Linked DNA regions of Homo sapiens: region 1 is linked to region 2. The links come from fine-mapping of genetic effects on plasma protein levels. Region 2 holds a variant in brackets. A gene starts in the other region. All regions are shown on one strand. Distances are from middle to middle.

The links. PIP is the posterior inclusion probability: the model's chance that the variant is causal. Protein levels are from antibody-based Olink assays in UK Biobank. Linkage for the fine-mapping came from a reference panel and not from the study's own genotypes, which makes the PIPs less certain.
Region 1: GP5 starts here. The variant in region 2 is fine-mapped to the plasma level of the GP5 protein (UK Biobank, PIP 0.92).

What each region holds. Positions count from the first base shown.
Region 1 is chr3:194,398,094-194,400,923 of GRCh38, forward strand. GP5 (glycoprotein V platelet) reads right to left here and starts at 1,173. Exons shown (of 2, transcript NM_004488.2): 1 at 1,145-1,173; 2 at 1-191. The coding sequence starts at 189. RefSeq lists enhancers at 2,003-2,556, 2,557-2,830.
Region 2 is chr3:123,112,511-123,115,419 of GRCh38, forward strand. All of the region lies in intron 7 of PDIA5 (protein disulfide isomerase family A member 5), which reads left to right. Among named protein-coding and RNA genes, the nearest start is that of PDIA5, 47 kb to the left of the region's middle. The variant C/T (reference allele first, on the strand shown) is at 1,646.

The DNA of each region.
Region 1 (2,830 bases), 71 Mb after region 2:
GCCGCGGCCCATTCCGAAGAGCAGGATGTGCGTGAGGTTGGTGGGCAGGCCTAGCGCGGAGATGCGCGCCACGTCGCCCCCCGAGCACTGCGCGGCGTCCCGGAAGACACACTTGCAAGCTGGCGGACAGGGGAAGGGCTGGGCGCGCAGAAGCCCGAGCACCGCGCACAGTAGAGTCCCCCTCAGCATGTCTGAAAAAGCAACCGTGGGAGTGTGGTCAACACACAGGAGCGTTCGCGCCTGTACTGAACCCTGGGATCCTGCACTTTGTGCAGAGGCACAATCCTTTCGCCAGAATTCTCACTCCCTCTTTTCTTAGGACTACAGATTTCCCTACGTGGTGAAAAGACACTCATTCTACACTGCGTGGCCTCATGCTTTTGCTTTATTGATTTTCCACTCTCAGTTTAAAGCATTGAGATTACAGAGTTTTCAAGCTACCGAATAGCCAATACTTTAAAGTCCTTACATAGAGAATTAAAATAATCATTCTCACATTCAAGCTCACAGACATCACAAAGCAATGTCCATTGTGAAAACGGCTCTGCTCTTGACTTTATAACTTACCCTGCATTGGCTATAACCAACAGTCAAGAAGGGAACAGCAAAGTCTGCAGCCACCACCATCTGATTCTTTTGCTCACAATCATGCTATTTCCACAGTACCAAGTTACTCTATTAAAGGACACCCCCAAAACAGCGAACACCTTCAATCAACAGCCAACAAAAGCATATAATAATACCTATCACTTTACGCCATGCATTGTTCTCAGCTCTTTATTTATACTACATGCATTTAATCCTTACAATAACCTTAGGAGGTAAGTATATTATCCCCGATTCAAGGATGAAGGCACAGAGGCACAGAAAGGCTCAACAGTATAACTAGGGTCACATAGAATTTGAGGGTAGTATTTCTGACTTAGCCATAAAGAGCTACTATTTCTAAGATGCTTAACTAAAGGTAATACTCACGGCACTGAATTTTCTGGGAAATGCACACCATACTACTAACCTGCCAAAACAATGTTTCCTAAGCGAAATTTTACATAAATTGCTTCTCGTGCAATTTTACTTCTCATGCACACACAGACTAAAGAGCCCTCTAATTTCCTATACTAATGTTTAAAATATTTGGCCTTACCTGAAATGGTTCTGCACTCCAAAGTAACTGAAAGACTTAGAGCTCTGCATGTGATTCGACACTTTCCACAGGAAGAGGGTGGTATCCTTGCATCCTGAGGATAAAGACTTTACCAGAGTAGGTCAGGAAAGGACCCTATCTCAGAGCCCTTGTTCTGGTTTTTAATGACAAATATCTTCAAACCGAGAGACCATATATAACCTGATTCCTACTGTCAAAGCCAAGAGCAGTGGGGAGAGTTTTTCCATAAATGGCACAATATAACTCTATGATGCCAGGGAAGTTCAGTGATACAGCTGGATCACTGCAGTAGCCACACCCCTAGATGGGCCACACTTCCCCTGGGTCTTCCTTTTCATGCCACATGGCCCTAATTTCCCACCCAGGTTTTTTTTTTTTTTTTTTTTTTTTTTTTTTTTTTTTTTGGTATGTGTTGTTTTTCTTTCTCCGCTTAGCAATAAAGCTAAGAACATTCTCAAATCCTCCATTTTTTTCTTCCTTTTGGGACTAATAAGGCTAAGAACATCTTTGAACTTGTTCAACAATGGCATTGCTAGGTTGCAGGATGCTCACTTGTTGTTTTTTTGGTGGGGGAGGGGGACTCTGTCGCCCAGGCTGGGGTGCAGTGGTGCGATCTCGGCTCACTGCAACCTCCTGCTCCCTGGTTCAAGCAATTCTCCTGCCTCGGCCTCACAAGTAGCTGGGATTACAGGCACACACCATCACGCCCAGCTAATTTTTTGTATTTTAGTAGAGACGGGGTTTTACCGTGTTGCCCTGGCTGGTCTTGAACTCCTGAGCTCAGGCAATCCGCCCGCCTCGGCCTCCCAAACTGCTGGGATTACAGGCATGAGCCACCACGCCCGGCCGCTCACATGTTCAGTTTAACTGGGGAAAGTCAAACTGCTCTCCAAAGTGGTTGTGTTGGTCTACGATGACACCTGCCATTTGTGAGAGTTCCTGTGCTTCCTCTCTGCCCACACGTGGCACTTCCTGCTTTTTGCCATTTCTATGAAAGATATCTCAGCATGATTTTAACTTTTCCTTTCCCTGTTTAATGATGAACTTGAACACCTTTTCACATAATTAAGGCCCACTTGTGCTTCATTTGAGAAAGCTGGGTTTCCTTTTGCCCATTTGTCTATAGGCAAAACGTGTCTACGTGTCTTTTGAACACACTGATAATGCTGTCTGCATTAAGACTTCCGGCCAGCCGCCCTGTCCGGGAGGGAGGTGGGGGGGTCAGCCCCCCGCCCGGCCGGCCGCCCCATCCGGGAGGTGAGGGGCGCCTCTGCCCGGCCGCCCCTACTGGGAAGTGAGGACCCCTCTGCCCGGCCAGCCGCCCCATCCGGGAGGTGGGGGGCGCTTCTGCCCGGCCGCCCCTACTGGGAAGTGAGGAGCCCCTCTGCCCGGCCACGACCCCGTCTGGGAGGTGTGCCTAGCGGCTCATTGGGGATGGGCCATGATGACAATGGCAGTTTTGTGGAATAGAAAGGCGGGAAGGGTGGGGAAAAAATTGAGAAATCGGATGGTTGCCGGGTCTGTGTGGATAGAAGTAGACATGGGAGACTTTTCATTTTGTTCTGTACTAAGAAAAATTCTTCTGCCTTGGGATCCTGTTGATCTGTGACCTTATCCCCAACCCTGTGCTCTCTGAAACATGTGCTGTGTCCACTCAGGGTTAAA
Region 2 (2,909 bases):
AGCAGCCTTTCCCCAGCCCTATTCTTTTTTTTTTTTTTTTTTTTTTTTTTGGTTTTGAGACAGAGCCTTGCTCTGTTGCCCAGGCTGGAGTGTGGTGGTACCATCTCAGCTCACTGCGACCTCCGCCCCCCGGGTTCAAATGGTTCAAATGATTCTCCTGCCTCAGCTTCCCGAGTAGCTGGGACTATAGGTGCCCGCCATGAGGCCTGGCTAATTTTTGTATATTTTTAGTAGAGATGGGGCTTCACCATGTTGCCCAGGCTGGTCTCAAACTCCTGACCTCAGGTGATCCACCCACCTCGGCCTCCCAAAGTGCTGGAATTACAGGTGTGAACCACCGTGCCCGGCCCCCCAAGCCCTGTTTTGATTGCTGGGTGTCCTCCAGCCCCAGCCTCCTCCCCAGGCCTCCTCGCTGGCCCCAGGGCTGTGCTTACCTTTGGGATGAGGCCCTGGTGTCTCACTTGCTGTAGATCCAGCTCTGCCCTGAATGGTAGCTACTTTAACCCTCGCTCCTTCTCTTTATTAATGTTCATTAGTTGGTTTCACCCCTTTTTGTTTCTTCTTGGAGGAATATTACTAACTACCCAGCTGTGAATTGCTTTAGGAATTATTCTGTCCACACAGCCCCTAGAGGATGGGCCTCCTTTGGTATATCTTAAAGCCCTTCAGGACTCAACACATTGGTTAAATGAAGCTGTAAAATGGAGTGTATATCAATATGCAGTGCGTGCCACAAGACGGCATCCGGGTGTAACCAGGCAGGTCTCAGTGTGATGCCATTAGTCATTTAGAAGTGTGCACGGGCAGTTTGCGCCCGTGTGCTGTGCCCTCTCCCGCCATGCACCCAGGCTGTGTGGCAGTGTGCCCATCCCATCCTTCACGACAGAGAGGTGAGCACAGTTATCATCTTTACAGAAGAGAAAGCTGGGGCAGGGGAAATTAGGTACCTCACAGAGTCACAAAGCTTATTGGTGGTAGGGGAGGGAGGAGAAAACTCGGAGGTTAAGTTCAACTTTTGGTGGAGGGTCAGATCGGTTGCACTCCTAGGTCCCAAGGAACCTCGGGACCCTTTTTTTGATTATGCACGTGTGTATGATTTTTTACAAAATGAAACAAACTTGTGCTTTTAGCACACTAGTCTAATCAAGTCTCCATGGCATCATAATTCAGCTGATTCCTGGGATACACAGCAGTTCCCTAACTGGGACGTCTGTTAGGACTCTGTGACCCTTTGGTCACATGTTGGGTGAATGGGCCCAAAGGCAGTGAGAACCTTTGGTGGTGACAAGGAACCTGGCTCCCCAGGATCTACCGCTTATTCAGGAAATGTTTGCTCACTGAATTAATAAGAAAATAAAAAGGCTGACTACTCTGACTTTTGAGGTTTGAGAATGATAATTAGTCTTACCTCTCCCCCTGCCTCCCAGTGGAATCAGCTGGAAGATAAACTCAGGAAGCACAGGGCCAGCCCTATTTTTGGTAAAGTTAAATTGGAAACTGGCTTGGCCTGTGGTTTCCTACTCCTCCTGCATCACCTCTCCCCAACCAATAACTTCTCCACCCAGCACCACTGGCCCTGCCCACAGGGACAACTGGCCGACTTATCCTCTGTTTCAGGGTGTTATTGCTGCAGGCTGCAAACAGG[C/T]GAAACAGGAAGAGAGAGGCCACACTGTGGAGACAGATAGTAAATAAAGTTCTTGATAGATGAATGTGGCCCAGTGGGGGTCAGACTGAAGTCACTGAGCGAAGAATGAGTGAAAGGCTGCAGGTGTCCCCCCTTATTTTCCCTCCTGGGGAGTGCAGCGACATCCTCTTCCCTCAGTGGAAGTGTTTCCCCCACCATGGACTGGGAAGCACCCCCCCAAATCCTGGCATTGGACTAAGATGTCTCTGCAGGCACTGAATGTTCCCCGGCTCTATCTAACACCTGCAGGGCACCTATCCCCACTGCACAGATAGGGAAGCCGAGGCTTGGAGAGCCCAGGCCACTTGCCCAAGATCACCCAGCCAGTGGGAGTTATGGGGAGATGCAGACCTCGGTCTCAGCCTTGTTCTTCCCAGAGCTGAGCTCCTTCCTCTGCGCCATCTGCAGCCTCCTGTTTTCCACCCGGTGCATTTCCCCCTGAGCGTTGTTCCTGCTTCTGTTCTCCTCTTTCTGAATCCCCACAATGGAAACAATGCCCCTGACAAGTGTCATATTCCTTCCTTCATGCCACTGATGGTGTTCGCACTGAGGTGGCAGGTCCTGAGGAGAGGTGCCTCTTATCTTCTGAGGGCAGATTCGGCGGGCTCGCGCTGCAGGCTGGCCTCGAAACAGCTCCTTTTCTCCTGCCAGGACTGATGGCAGAACTTAAGCCCAGGGTTCGCGTACTGGGGTGTGTGTGAGTCCATCTGTCAGACAGGAATGTCAGGAGGGGGCTGTGGGGCAGTTTTGGAGCCTCATGGCCAAATGTCCTGTGTCTGCATCTTGTCCGGTAGGCTTGGTGCTGGGGAGGTTCTGGTGGCCCAGAAGGAATGTTGGCCTTCTGGCTTCACGGCCTGTCTAGGCGTCAGCTAAGCATGGATTGGAGCTGGGCTGCCTGTCGCCACATGGACCCTGTGCCCGCTGTGCCAAGCTGAGATCAGCCTGACACATGGTTCCAGGCAGCTTTGGTTCTGTGCTCTTCAGATGCATCTTAAGCCCTGTTTTGTAGCAGAGAGGCAGTCGGAAAGGGTAATAGCCTGGCACTTCAGAATCCCTGCTGTCTGAGGAAACTGCTCATGTCCTGTGGGATCAGTGCTGAAATGTGGTCTGCTCTGGTTTAAGGGAAGGAGTTTAAGGTCACTCTAAAGTTTTAGTGGATGTTTGGGACCTGGCCTTCCTGGTCGCTTGAGTCCAGGAGTTCAAGGCCCCCTATCAAGGCTGTGGG